Linked DNA regions of Homo sapiens. The protein of the gene in region 3 purifies or fractionates together with the protein of the main gene of each other region. This does not show direct contact. Each region holds a gene or a part of one and is shown on either strand. Other genes may lie near its edges.

The links. Proteins that work in one complex are often made in the same cells at the same time.
Region 1: the proteins of ZFYVE27 (region 3) and GOLGA5 purify together in Homo sapiens (affinity purification with mass spectrometry; 2 studies listed by BioGRID and IntAct, with this or other methods). This does not show direct contact.
Region 2: the proteins of ZFYVE27 (region 3) and ACACB purify together in Homo sapiens (affinity purification with mass spectrometry; one large-scale study listed by BioGRID and IntAct). This does not show direct contact.
Region 4: the proteins of ZFYVE27 (region 3) and TMEM184B purify together in Homo sapiens (affinity purification with mass spectrometry; one large-scale study listed by BioGRID and IntAct). This does not show direct contact.

What each region holds. Positions count from the first base shown.
Region 1 is NC_000014.9:92,804,305-92,807,804, forward strand, and holds part of GOLGA5 (golgin subfamily A member 5), read left to right. Parts: intron 1-2,431; coding exon 2,432-2,659; intron 2,660-3,500. UniProt on the Homo sapiens protein: Involved in maintaining Golgi structure. Stimulates the formation of Golgi stacks and ribbons. Involved in intra-Golgi retrograde transport.
Region 2 is NC_000012.12:109,231,587-109,235,086, forward strand, and holds part of ACACB (acetyl-CoA carboxylase 2), read left to right. Parts: intron 1-1,082; coding exon 1,083-1,220; intron 1,221-2,161; coding exon 2,162-2,261; intron 2,262-2,351; coding exon 2,352-2,459; intron 2,460-3,500. UniProt on the Homo sapiens protein: Mitochondrial enzyme that catalyzes the carboxylation of acetyl-CoA to malonyl-CoA and plays a central role in fatty acid metabolism.
Region 3 is NC_000010.11:97,740,128-97,743,627, reverse strand, and holds part of ZFYVE27 (protrudin), read right to left. Parts: intron 535-3,500; coding exon 464-534; intron 36-463; coding exon of another isoform or gene 1-35. UniProt on the Homo sapiens protein: Key regulator of RAB11-dependent vesicular trafficking during neurite extension through polarized membrane transport. Promotes axonal elongation and contributes to the establishment of neuronal cell polarity.
Region 4 is NC_000022.11:38,224,511-38,228,010, reverse strand, and holds part of TMEM184B (transmembrane protein 184B), read left to right. Parts: intron 1-1,140; coding exon 1,141-1,232; intron 1,233-2,417; coding exon 2,418-2,587; intron 2,588-3,031; coding exon 3,032-3,226; intron 3,227-3,290; exon of another isoform or gene 3,291-3,500. UniProt on the Homo sapiens protein: May activate the MAP kinase signaling pathway.

The sequences.
Region 1 (3,500 bases), on a different chromosome or scaffold from region 3:
GTCCTTTCTCCTCGGCCTCCCAAAGTGCTGGGATTACAGGCGTGAGCCACCACGCCTGGCCTACTTCATTTCTTTTTAAAATCTTTATTTTAGAAATTTCAAACATACCAAAATAGAACGTAATGACCTCCTATTATCCAACTACAGTAATCACTCATGGCCATTCATGTTTCATTTATACCCTCCCATTTCCCATCACTTTCTTCACCTGCACCCTCCGCACAATTAATTTGAAGCAAATCACAGATCTTATATCATTTTTTCTATAAACATTTCATTTTCTTACTCTAAAAATACTCTAAAAGCAAATGTTCACACCATTATCACCTTAAAAATGTAATAATTTCTTTCTTTTTTTTTTTTTTTTTTTGAGACAGGGTCTCACCTTTTGCCCAGGCTGGAGTGCAGTGGTGCAGTCTCAGCTCATTGCAACCTCTGCCTCCCAGGTTCAAGCGATTCTCCTGCCTCAGCCTCCGAAGTAGCTGAGATTACAGGCACCCGCCACCATGCCCAGCTAATTTTTAGTAGAAACAGGGTTTCACTATGTTGGCCAGGCTGGTCTCAAACTCCTGACCTTGTGATCCGCCTGCCTCAGCCTCCCAAAGTGCTGGGATTACAGGCGTGAGCCACCACGCCCTGCCAACACTCCCATTTTTAAGTCACGTCTTAGGTGCCCATTCCCTACCCCACTTGATTATTAGCTTTTTGTGGTTATTTTTTCTTTTAGGTAAAATGTACATATATTAAGATGCACACAAATCTTAGCTATATGACGAATGGCAATACCTGTGTAACCCACACCTTTACCGTGTTATAGATTTCCTTTGCCCCAGAAAGTTCCTCATGTTCCTTTCCACTTAATCTCCTCACCCCGTCCCTGAAAGCACCCAGTGCTCTGATTTTTCTCTCCTTAGTTTTGCTTGTTCTAAAACTTCATATAAATTGAATCATATAGTATATATACTTTCTAATCTGGCTTCTTTTACTGAACTGTTAGTGAGATTCATCCATGTTACTGTTCTTTTTTTATTCTGTTTTATTATGTAGTACTCTATTATACGGCTGTACCACAGTTTATCTATTCTCTTTTATGGACATTGGGTTTGTTTCCAGTTTTGGATTATTGTGAATAAAACTGCTATAAACATTTTTGTACTTGCTTTTTTGTGGGCAAATGTTTTCATTTCTCTTGTATAAATACCTAGGAGTGGAATTGCTGGGTGAAACGGTAGCTGCATGTTTAATTTCATAAGAAATTGTAAAACCTTTTCCCCCAGTGATTGTACCATTTTATAGTCCCACCAGCAGTGAGAGGTCTAGTTGCTCTGCAGTGTCACCAACATTTGGTGTTTTTAATTTTAGCCATTCTAGGGGGTGTCTGTTGGTTCTCATTGTGATTTTAATTTGCATTTCCTTGATGACTAAACATGTTCAGAACTTTTTCATTTGATTATTGATATTTGTTTATATAACCTTATAAAGTATCAAGTCTTTTACCCATATACTGATTGTTTTAGTCAGTTTTATTATTTAGATATATAGTTCATTTTCATCACATAATTTTTAGAGTAATTTAAAAGTATACTTGCATTATATTTAGTAACAAAAACAAGATTAATCTGAATTCATGTGTCTCTATCTCTTTGGGTAAGACATGTTAGATTCCAGTTTGATTAAAAAAAAAAAACAAAAAACCTTGTAGTGACCTGTTATTACTCTTCTTGCCTTGAAACCTGCAGCTACTCTATTGTGCCTTCCCAATTTTTCAGTATTTGAGACTTCTCCTGGTTTTTTTTCCCAAAAGCATTTTGGAGACAAAAGGAAATCCAAACCCATTTTACCTGAACCCAACCACTCACATGATCTCTGATGTTCTCCCCAGAATGGTGTTGTACTGTCTGTTGTCATTCATTCAGTGTATCCAGACTTGAGTATCCTTAGAGGTCCATATGCCCCATTTATGAGAATGAAATTTAATCAGAGGGAAGACTATTGAAAATTTGTTTATTTATGTATTTTTTTTGAGATGGAGTCTCGCTCTGTTGCCCAGGCTGGAGTGCAGTGGTGCAATCTTGGCTCACTGCAACACCTTTGGCCTCCCAGGCTCAAGTGATTCTCCTGCCTCAGCCTCCTGAGTAGCTGGCACTACAGGTGTGTGCCACCACACCTGGCTAATTTTTGTATTTTTGGTAGAGATGGGGTTTCACCGTGTTGGTCAGGCTGGTCTCAAACTCCTGACCTCAAGTGATCTCCCTGCCTCGGCCTCCCAAAATGCTGGGATTACAGGCATGAGCCACCGCGCCTAGCTGAGAATTTACTTTTTATGGTGTTTTAGCTGTAGCAGTCAACTTGAGCATCCTACCAAAGCAAGTTGTTAATGCATATGTGATGAACACGCCAATGTAACAAAAACGTATTCTTTTTTTTACAGAAGCTGCCAGTAACTCAGATTCTAGCCATGAAGGTCAAGAGGAATCTTCAAAGGAAAATGTGTCATCAAATGCTGCCTGCCCTGACCACACCCCAACACCTAATGATGATGGCAAATCACATGAACTGTCTAACCTTCGACTGGAGAATCAGCTGCTGAGGAATGAAGTTCAGTCTTTAAATCAAGAAATGGCCTCGTTACTCCAAAGATCCAAAGAGACTCAAGAAGGTAGAGGCTTAAATTGTTCAGGATTAGGAATTTAACTTTTAAAAATAAACTTAAGGCTGGACGCAGTGGCTCGTGCCTGTAATCCCAGCACTTTGGGAGGCCGAGGCGGGCGGATTGCCTGAGGTCAGGAGTTCAAGACCAGTCTGGCCAACATGGTGAAACCCTGTGTCTACTAAAAATACAAAAAAATTAGTCAGATGTGGTTGCAGGCACCTGTAATCCCAGCCACTCAGGAGGCTGAGGCAGGGGAGTTGCTTGAACCAGGGAGGTGGAGGTTGCAGTGAACCGAGATTGCACTACTGCACTCTAGTCTGGGCAGCAGAGCAAGACTCTATCTCAAAAATAAATAAATAAAAATAAAATAAAATAATAAACTTAAAAACTTTAAACTGTTAGAAATATTTACATTTAAACTGTGAGAAATTAGATGCGACTTGTAAAATGATATTTTCATAGAAAAACTGCCCAGATTTGGAAATGGGACCAGTCATCCTCCCACCAACCCAAAACATAAGAGTATTCGCTTCTTTGGTCATCCTTTAAGAACCATGAAATTGAAGAACTGAGAGGAACAAACTAGTAGTAGTCTAGTTCATTCATTTATTCTGAACTTTCAAGGGAAGCTGTTCCATTAAACAAAGTAGTAGGCACTAATAGAGTTGCAGTGTTGCTGCTCTAGGGCATATAAAAGGTACATGGAATTCAGTTCAGTGCCCTTGGGAATTGTGCAGTGAGGTGGCCCTGGAGTAGAAAACCTCAAGTTCCTCAGAAATAGGTAATTAAGAAGGAAATAATCTCATTATGGAGGTAGTGACTGAGGAAGATGTGAATGTTATTGTAA
Region 2 (3,500 bases), on a different chromosome or scaffold from region 3:
CCCAGGTTCGATCATCGCCTAGGAGAACTCACAGGTCTCGGGACATAGTCATGCTTATAGCTCTGACTTATTAGGGGGCAAGGATACAAAGCAGTTAGCCAAGGCAGAAGGCATCAGGGTGAAGTCCAGAGGAAAGCAGGTGTGCTGCCAGGGTCCTCTCCCAGTGGATTCACGCAGGGTGCACTTCATTCCCCCAGCAAGGAGTTGTGACAACACAAGTGAAGGGTTGTCTTCCAGCCCCGCACCAGGGATTGGTGGCTGGTCACATCACCCTCTGCTCTGCATCGAAATCTCAGGCTTGCAGAAGAAAGCAGGTGTTCAGCATAAACCACACTGTTTGTGCAAACAGTTGAGGCACAGTGAGCCCCCCTTGTCACCTTCAGGGAACGATAGGAACCTTCCCCAAGTCCAAGTTCCCAGAGGCCAGCCAAGGGCTGTCCTTGCAAGCAAGCAGGTCTCCTTTCTCAGAAGAGCAGTGTGGGGCCTGCTGTGCTGACTTCCTGCACACCATTTCATTACCCCTCCCGTATCTGATTCCAAGGCCCAATTCTAACAACCTCAGGTGGCCCATTGAGATTTGCTGCTGGTGAGCAGCCAGTTCTGGGAGCATCGTTGTCTAAACTCCAGAAGGCTGCTGACTTTGTCCCAAGGGCAAGTTTGATGGAGGGATTACAGGGAGCAGAGGACTGGAGTGTCCGTCAGGACCAAGCCTGACTGCCTCACCAGCTGCCTGGGGCTGGTGGATTTCTCCAGGAGAAATTGATGCTGGGAGTGTTTCTTCTCTGTGGTCAAGTTCAGCACTTGGGGCTCCCCTCGGGACTGTGTTGAGACTGGACTCTCATGCATGAATCATTGATTCCTACACTTGTTGAGCTCTTACTCTTCACCAGGTCCTGAGGGATCAGATGAGACCCTCCTCAGGCCCCGGCCCCAGCCATTGTCTCATCCCCTGCCCATTTTAAGCCCCCATTTGGAAGAGCTCTAAATCTGGTCCAGCTCACTGAAGCTTCAGGAGTAGGAGCAGCTCGTAGAGTTGGGTCTGCAAGCAGCTGCCTCATCCCCGACTTGCCATCACCTTACAGGATGACCGTGCCCATCAGCATCACCAACCCTGACCTGCTGAGGCACAGCACAGAGCTCTTCATGGACAGCGGCTTCTCCCCACTGTGCCAGCGCATGGGAGCCATGGTAGCCTTCAGGAGATTCGAGGACTTCACCAGGTACCCAGCATGGCCCGGTCTCCAACACCCTGAGCATGGGGGCTGGGCAGACTTCCCTTGAATCCCCCCCCAATTCACTGGACAGATGGGGTGGGAGAGACCCAGACACGTGGCACAGCATGTCAATAACAACAGAATAATAATAGCATTGTAGCCAAGAGTATGAGCCTACATGTCAGCTTGCCTGGCACAGCACATCAATAACAACAGAATAATAAGAGCATCGTAGCCAAGAGTGTGAGCCTGCGTGTCAGCTTGCCTGGTTTGAATTCTGGCTATGTGCTTTCTAACTAAGAGACTGAGCAAAATATTTTTACCTCTCCATACCTTCGTTTTCTTATCTGTAAAATGGGAATAATAAAGGACTCACTTCATAGGTGCGCCATGAGAATTAAATGAGATAACATATGTGAAATAACATATTTAAAGTATAATTAGTATGCAGATAATATAGTGACTAAATGTTAGCTCTCAATAGTTACTGTTATAGTCTTTTTTCAGCCTTTCACTGTGTGTTCTGCTTTGTGCTTGGAGTATCTTGTGGAATTTTCACAACAGCCTCATGAGGCATAGGGATTACTCTTATTACCTTTCTTTGACTCGGGGTGAGGTGAGGTTTCTAGGATCTCCCAGCCAGTAAAAATGGGAGCCAAGAGTTGATCTCAAGCCCAGCTGATGCCTGAAAGCGCTGGAATCCTTCCCTGTATTCCTGATCACAGATCACTTAGGTTCATTCTTCCCTTTTGGGAAGGACCCCATCACGGGTGCTCTGGACAAAGTAGACAGGGAACCTCCTGAGCTCTGTAGAGTTGGATAAGATCAAAGGGTGTTGGCTGGGAAATTGGGAGGGTCTGGCGTTCCCTGCTGCCTGGCTTGGAAGCTTGACCTCATCCCCATGGGTCAGCAGCCCCTCAGCCCTCCCTCTCTACCCGCACCCCCAGAAATTTTGATGAAGTCATCTCTTGCTTCGCCAACGTGCCCAAAGACACCCCCCTCTTCAGCGAGGCCCGCACCTCCCTATACTCCGAGGATGACTGCAAGGTAAGCGTCTAAGCCCAGGGAGCAACCTGGGGAGCAGGTGGGCCGTGGCCCCCAGGCTTTCCAGCCCTACCCCTTGCTTCTCCCTCTCAGAGCCTCAGAGAAGAGCCCATCCACATTCTGAATGTGTCCATCCAGTGTGCAGACCACCTGGAGGATGAGGCACTGGTGCCGATTTTACGGACATTCGTACAGTCCAAGGTACTCTGGGCGTGCCTCTGGTTTTGGTGGGGGTTCTTGGAGAAGGAGGAGGGGCTGGGCTCGTCGAGGCGGCCCTTGGGGAGGCAGGCGTGCTGAGTACTTCAGAGCCACAGACCTGGCTTCCCACTCTAGCTCTGCTCGCCTCATAGCTGGCGACCTTGGGCAGATGTGGCTGAACGTGGGGTCAGCATTTCTCTCGCTCACGGTGTTGCAATGATTCAATGACAAAGTATATACACGGCTTAGCCAGTCCCAGGTACGGAGGGCACACCCAATAAATAGTTTGGAGATTTTCTGGGAGTGTTTTTGTTGGAATAATCCAGAAACTGGCAGTTTTAAAATGGCTACTTACATTGATGACCAAGTGTGCCAATAACAGCAGGTTGCTCTGTAAGCCTGTGATGCCATTGTATTTCAGCCTGGGGGACAGAGCGAGACCCTGTCTCAAAAAAAATTATATATATTTACAGTATACAATGTGATATTTTTTAATTATCTTTTTAATAACAGCTTTATTGAGACATCATTGACATACTACACAATTCACCCATTTAAAGTGTGCAGTTTTGCAGCCATAAAAAAGAATGAGATCATGTCCTTTGCGGGGACATGGATGAAGCTGGAAGCCATCATCCTCAGCAAACTAACACAAGAACAGAAAACCAAACACCGCATGTGCTCACTCATAAGTGGGAGCTGAACATTGAGAACACATGGGCAGAGGGAGGGTAACAACGCACACCGGGGCCTGTCGGGGGGTGGGGGCCGAGGGGAGGGAACTTAGAGGACAGGTCGGTAGGTGCAGCAAACCACCATGGCACATATATACCTGTGTAACAAGCCTGCACGTTCTGCACATGTATCCTGTTTTTTTTTTTAGAAGAAATAAGAAAAAAAGTGTACAATTTAATATATTTTTAGTATATTCACCAGGTTGTACAACCATCACCAGAATCAATTTTAGGACATTCTCATCACTCCATAGAAAAACCCTGTACCTGTTAGCAGTCACTCCCCTCTGTCCCCAACCCAAAAACCCTC
Region 3 (3,500 bases):
ACTCATGCCATGTCCCCAGATGACCCTTGAATCAGCTTAAAAACCAAAATGGAAAAAGGTCAATGCATCCTCAGCAGGAAGTCAAGAAGGAAACAACGATAATACTGAGAGCAGCTACAATGCACTGGCTGCCTCTTCCACGCCAGGCACTGTGCTAAGTATTATGCCTAGACTGCCGCATTCCTCACAAATACTCTAGGAGGAAAGCGTCATTTTTATCCTCCCTCTAGAGGTAAGGAAAATTAGGCCTTAACAGGGAAGTTCAATAATCTGCCCAAGGTCACAGCAGGCAGCTCAGCCTGGATCGTCCCTCTGGAGGCTGTTTCTGACTCCAAGCAGACACAGAGGAACACTAACTCCAGGGCAACAAGAGCAGCTCCCACACATAGGGTGGGGCTGCATCCAGGTGTTCTTCCCCCACATTCGTTCACAAAAACCACTGGCCCCTGAAGGCAGTTCTTACCCTCATTCAAAGTGAGGAACAAGACGTTGAGGCCCAGGCAGGTCAGCAAGGAACACAAAGGCATCTGCCACCTACAATACAGAGAGTCCTGATCACTACAGAGAGTCACTCCTCCAGCTGGGGAGGGGAGACCAGGCAGCACAGACGGGACATCAAACCAGAAGAGGAGGCCTGGAACACAGAAGGTCAAGGAGAAACGAAAAGGGGGCCTCTCACTTGGACTGGTGACCAGGAGAGGCGGTAAGATGTCACACATTAGCACCTGGGGTGAGGAAACTGGTAGGTCTGTAGTGCTTTCTCCCAAAAGGAAGAAGAATTTATAAAATATCAGTTAAGAAACCCAGTTAATACCATTTAACCTGTGTTTTGTAAGGTTGTATTCTCCTTAAGAGGTGACACTGACAAATGTTCTTAATATTTTCCTCTATTCTTTTTTTATAATTTCATAAGAATATATAATCATTGCACAAGATTCAACTAATACAGAAATCAAGAAAAAACAAATTGTGGACTTCTTTGGCCCCATTTGTGCCTTTATCTTCTTATGTCCATGTTTTTGAAAATTTGAGAGTTTATCTGAGAGTTTATTTTGAATACCTATTAATTCAAAAAGAGAAACAATAGTAAAGATTTTATTTTAATATATTAAAAATCAAGATGAAAGTAGGGTGCAGCATTCACTTAGCAATCACACCTTAAGTGAGCTGGAACAGACAGAAGCAAACACAGATACATCACTGCCACCACCACCACCACCACCAAATGGCAATGCAGAAGCCCCCAAACAGGGAACAAGGAAGACCAGAGACTCAGATTGCTGAGAACAAGCAAATGCTGCTGGCTCCGTCCCTGATAAAGGACATTTAGTAGGGAAAGAGGAGCACAGATGCAACAATGAAGCCACGACACCCAAATTCTAAAGGCAGTGTCAATATATAGGTGAGCCACTAGGAGAGAGACAAACATCAGAAAAATAAACAGGTAAATTGCTGGCAAGCATTGAATGTATTTTCTTTTTTTTTTTTTTTTTCTTTTGAGACAGAGTCTCGCTCTGTTGCCCAGACTAGAGTGCAGTGGCACAATCTTGGTTCACTACAACCCCCGCCTCCTGGGTTCAAGCGATTCTGTCTCAGCCTCCCTAGCAGCTGGGATTACAGGGGCACGCCACCACACCTGGCCAGTTTTTGTGTTTTCAGTAGGGATGGGGTGTTTCACTATGTTGGCCAGGCTGGTCTCAAACTCCTGACCTCAGGTGATCTGCCCACCCTGGCCTCCCAAAGTGCTGGGATTAAAGGCGTAAGCTACCGTGCTGGGGCTAAATATATTTTCTTGTGCTCTGGAGTATTTCAGAGTTACTGAATGAGGTTAACTAATTCATGCAGGGCTTTTACTTTTTTTTATTATTATACTTAAAGTTCTGGGATACATGTGCAGAACGTGCAGGTTTGTTACGTAGGTATACACGTGCCATGGTGGTTTGCTGCACCCATCAACCCATCATCTACCTCAGGTATTTCTCCTAATGCTATTCTTCCTCTAGCCCCCACCCCTCAATAGGCCATGGTGTGTGATGTTCCCCTCCCTGTGTCCATGTGTTCTCACTGTTCAACTCCCACTTATGAGTGAGAACATGTGGTGTTTGGTTTTCTGTTCCTGTGTTAGTTTGCCGAGAATGATGGTTTCCAGCTTCATCCATGTCCCTGCAAAGGACATGAACTTATCCTTTTTCATGGCTGCACATAGTATTCCATGGTGTATATGTGCCACGTTTTCTTTATCCAGTCTATCATTGATGGACATTTAGGTTGGTTCCAAGTCTTTGCTATTGTGAATAGTGCTGCAACAAACATACATGTGCATGTGTCTTTACAGCAGAATGATTTATAATCTTTTGGATATATACCCAGTAATGGGATTGCTGGGTAAAATGGTATTTCTGCTTCCAGATCCTTGAGGAATCGCCACATTGTCTTCCACAATGGTTGAACTAATGTACACTGCCACCAACAGTGTAAAGGGGCTTTTACTTTTTAATGAAATTTATGAGTAAGGGAATGAAATGACATCTGTGTCTTTCTCCTGAAATTCAACACACTCCACCTGTACCACCCTAATTACGCCTCAGAACCTCTAGTGGCAGCTACCAGGGTAAAAGCGAAATAAAAGCCAATCCCATTTTGGAAATAAAAACACCACCACTCAAGTCACTTTCATTTTAAAGCCTCTTCCCTTCTATAAAATGTCTTTACTGACACTTTGGTCCCAGGAGACCCAAGCAGTAGAGTAGCTGATCCCAGGAGAGAGTCTGTTAACAATTTACTGCAGCTCTAGGCTTCAGACCTAATAGCCAGAGCCCAAGATTAGGTCCCTCTTCAAAGTCAAATCCTCTTTACTAAGAAAAGAACAATCAAAAGCACAAACTAACGTGACAGCCACTTTCATGGACCAGTGCTCCCTCTCCCAGCAGCACAGAAACTGCAGGCTCCTGGGGGCTTTTAAGTCCAATGCTCCTCCTGCATCCTGCTTTAACCAATCCTACCACATCCTCCAATTTTTAATTCCATAAAATGGAAAAACCCTAACACATTAGTGTGCTAAGACGCACTACGGACTAGTAGAGGAAAAGGAGACGGGCAGGACAGGATACACTTAACTTTCGTACTTTGCCACAAAGAGCAACACACACATACAAAGAATGTGCCGGGGGCACAGCCTCTCTCCTAAAGAAGACCAAACTTCACATCATGCTGAGATTATAAAAGGAGAAAACAGCCTCTCCTCATACTGTCTCCCTACCCCTTGTGGGAAGAGCACAGTGATCTTACAGTAGAGAACACAGCTCTGGAACACTGACTAGCTCACCTCTACGGATACAGACATAAATTAGGTGAACAAGAAAAATGTAGGGCCTTTGCCAGAGAACTAGTAACAAAACATCCACTATTTCCAGACTGAGGCATGGATAAATACTCAATGGCATCCTCAGAGGTTAACGTAACTCCACTCACCCTGCTTCCTACCAGTCTCTCTCATGTAT
Region 4 (3,500 bases), on a different chromosome or scaffold from region 3:
TTGCAGCTACACTAGTTGAGCCTTTTGGATTGGATTTAACCTCCCCCAGCTCCTCAGAAGGGGTCTTAGGGCTTAGATTTATTTGCTTTCTAGATAATGGTGATACTAGTGATGTTATGGGCACCATGGGTCCGCCCGTAGGGAATCGGGAAAACCTGGCTGAGGAACTCTTTCCGTGGCTCAGCCAGCTAGCAGGCGCCGTTAGTGCATGTACAGAGGCGGGAGACTCCCGAGAAGATGCTGCGCTTCCTGGCTGTGCCATCCCCGCAGCAGTGGCCCTGTGGTGTGGGGAGTGACTACATCCTTTTCATCAGGGAGTCTGTGCTCAGAGGCCAAGTGTCTGCCCAAGCTGTCCCCAGAGTTCAAACTCAGATTTTGAGACTCTGGAGTCCACGTGCTCTGGGCTCCTGCAGGTCACCTCCATCCCCAGAGTGACCTCTGCTGACCAGAAACCCTGGACCCAGGCCCAGAGAGTAGGGCTAGGAACCAGATCGGGGGTGGACATGGAGGATGGGAGGAGGCCCTCACCTGCGCCGGCTTCCCGGTGGCTGGTTCCTTGAGCAGGGCCCTAGCCTTGCCCCGGGCACCAAGGTCTCCAGGACCTGGCCCTGCCCATCTCCTCAGCCACCTCTCTAGTGCGCAGCCCCTTGCACCTGTCCACCCTCTGCCTCGGGGCCTTGGTGCAAGCTGCCCCCTCTGCCTGTCGAGCCTCTCATCTCCGGCACCCACCTGATGGTCCTGGCTCGAGAAGCTTCCTTGTGTGCATCTCCTGTCTCCCGCCTCCATCGTGCCCTGCCACACCATTCCTCCCTTCCTCCCTCCCTTCCTCCACATGCTCATATCACATACGGCATTGCGCTGGCTGCATCTCCTATATGTTCTGCCCCCCGCCCCGCGCAGACAGCAGTCCCCTGGGAGCAGGACACGTAGCCACCCCCCATCTCCTCCATCTCCTCTATCCTTCCATCCCCTCCATCCCTTCGTCCCTCCATCCCCTCCGTCCCTCCATCCCTCCGTCCTCTCCGTCTCCTTCATCCTCTCTGTCCCTCCATCCGGTACAGTTCCGTCTGCCAGAGGCAGGGCTTGCTTCATGCCTTCTGTGCTCCTCCTCCACACTCAACCTCCTTTTCCCCCCAACAGGCCACCCTGCAGTTCTGTGTGGTGAAGCCACTCATGGCGGTCAGCACTGTGGTCCTCCAGGCCTTCGGCAAGTACCGGGATGGGGACTTTGAGTAAGCAGCGGGTGCTCCCCGGGGTGTGTGGGAGGAGTGTTGGCGCAGGCTGGTGCCTTGGCTCAGGGAAGGGGGCAGCCAGAGTGGCCGCACAGCCATGACCTTCCTGGGTGTCTGGTGCTCACAACCCCCCTGAAGTCTGAGCCCAGCAGTGGACACCCTTGCAGTTGGCCCCGCTGCCAGCCCCGGAGTGAGCCATTGGCAGCAGTCACGTTCATGTCCAGGCTGCAGAGTGGTACCATGAAGGGATGGGCCACAAAGGGACAGTGACCACTGCTGAGGCAGGGAGCGAGAGGGTCAGAGCCCCAAGAGGTCGGCTCAAGTCCACAGATACAAAGCCCGTGCTGTGTAAATTGTCCACACCCATTTCATTCTGGGCTTAGTGAAAGTGACCCCGTGGCTGGGCACAGTGGTTCACGCCTGTAATCCTAGCACTTTGGGAGGCCAACGCGGGTAGATCACCTGAGGTCAGGAGTTCAAGACCAGCCTGGCCAACATGGTGAAACCCCATCACTACTAAAAATACAAAAAATTAACCGGGCGTGGTGACGGGTGCCTATAATCCCAGCTACTCGGGAGGCTGAGGCAGGAGAATCGCTTGAACCCAGGAGGCAGAGGTTGCGGTGAGCCAAGATCACGCCATTGCACTCTAGCCTGGGTGACAAGAACAAAACTCCATATCTAAAAAAAAAAAAAAAAAAAGTGACCATGTGTCTAGCCCTGTGCTTTCAAGCTCTCGGCACACACTGTCTGTGAACTGTGTAACAGCCCTGCCAGGGCAGGTGGGCAAAAGGAGGTCAGGGGGATGCAGCCGACCGAGTGAAAAGGCAGCAGAGCTGAGCAGCGTCACCTATTTTGACGCCTGTTATCTGAGTGTCAGGCTATGGCCTCGGGCCCGGCCCTGGCTTCCACACTGGTGTCCAACGTTAGGAGTGTGGGCACCAGGGCTTAGACAAGTCCACGAGCCACGCAGAGGCAGTAGAGCTGGTCTGGCCTGCAGGCGCACCCCATGTACCCCCACCCCTGTCTGTCGCTTTGATCACCCATTCTGACCCCTTCAGTGGCTCGTTGAGCTCTGCTGGAGGTGTGGGGCTGAGAGCCATGGGGACTGTGTGTGGTGCAGTCGAGGAGAGCCCCTTCCCTCCAAGGGTCTGTCCCAGCCAGAAAATGCTCCCCGTCCCGCAGCGTCACCAGTGGCTACCTCTACGTGACCATCATCTACAACATCTCCGTCAGCCTGGCCCTCTACGCCCTCTTCCTCTTCTACTTCGCCACCCGGGAGCTGCTCAGCCCCTACAGCCCCGTCCTCAAGTTCTTCATGGTCAAGTCCGTCATCTTTCTTTCCTTCTGGCAAGGTGAGCCCCCTCCCAGCACCTGGAGGCTGCCCATGCCACCCTGTCCTCTGCGCTTCCTGCTGCCCCTTCTGCTTATGGTCCCTGGTGCCTGTAGGGCCTGTTCAGAGGGGCCTCAGCCCACTGGGCACTTGCTGGGGGTGAAATCTGAGCCCTCGAGGGCCTTTCCCAGGGGCTAGGGAGAGCTTTGGTGGGGCCGCTACATGGATGAGAGGGCCCAGGAGACCCTGCGTAATTGCTGGCATCTCAGTTTCGGTGGCAAAGAGCTGGGAGAGTGGGGTTTCCGGAGGCTGTGGCCTTGTGTCGCTACCCCTGCCCTGCAGGAGCAGCTGTGGCCCTGCTCACATCCTCACTGGGGCATGTGGGCAGCTGAATGGGGCATTGTGGAAGAAGGGGGAGCAGGAAAGGAATCATTCTGGGTCCAGACACCCGTGCCTCCCCATCCAGGCATGCTCCTGGCCATCCTGGAGAAGTGTGGGGCCATCCCCAAAATCCACTCGGCCCGCGTGTCGGTGGGCGAGGGCACCGTGGCTGCCGGCTACCAGGACTTCATCATCTGTGTGGAGATGTTCTTTGCAGCCCTGGCCCTGCGGCACGCCTTCACCTACAAGGTCTATGCTGACAAGAGGCTGGACGCACAAGGTATGAGCCAGGGTCCTAGGCGACCCCCGCTGGGAGAAGCAGGGAGCCCCAAACATCCCAGGACCCTCCCACCTCCCAGCATCCTACAGGTGCGGCTGGGTCAGGACATGGGATCCCCACTCTATATGCAGGAATGGGGCCACAGAGGTCGGGGAAGAGCAGGTGCCACCAGCACGACCGATTCGGTCCTGGAAGCTCAGGCCACCTGTCCCTTGCAGCAGGTCCAAGTGTGGCGGTCCAGGGCTGATACAGACAGAGACTGTAATGAATAGAC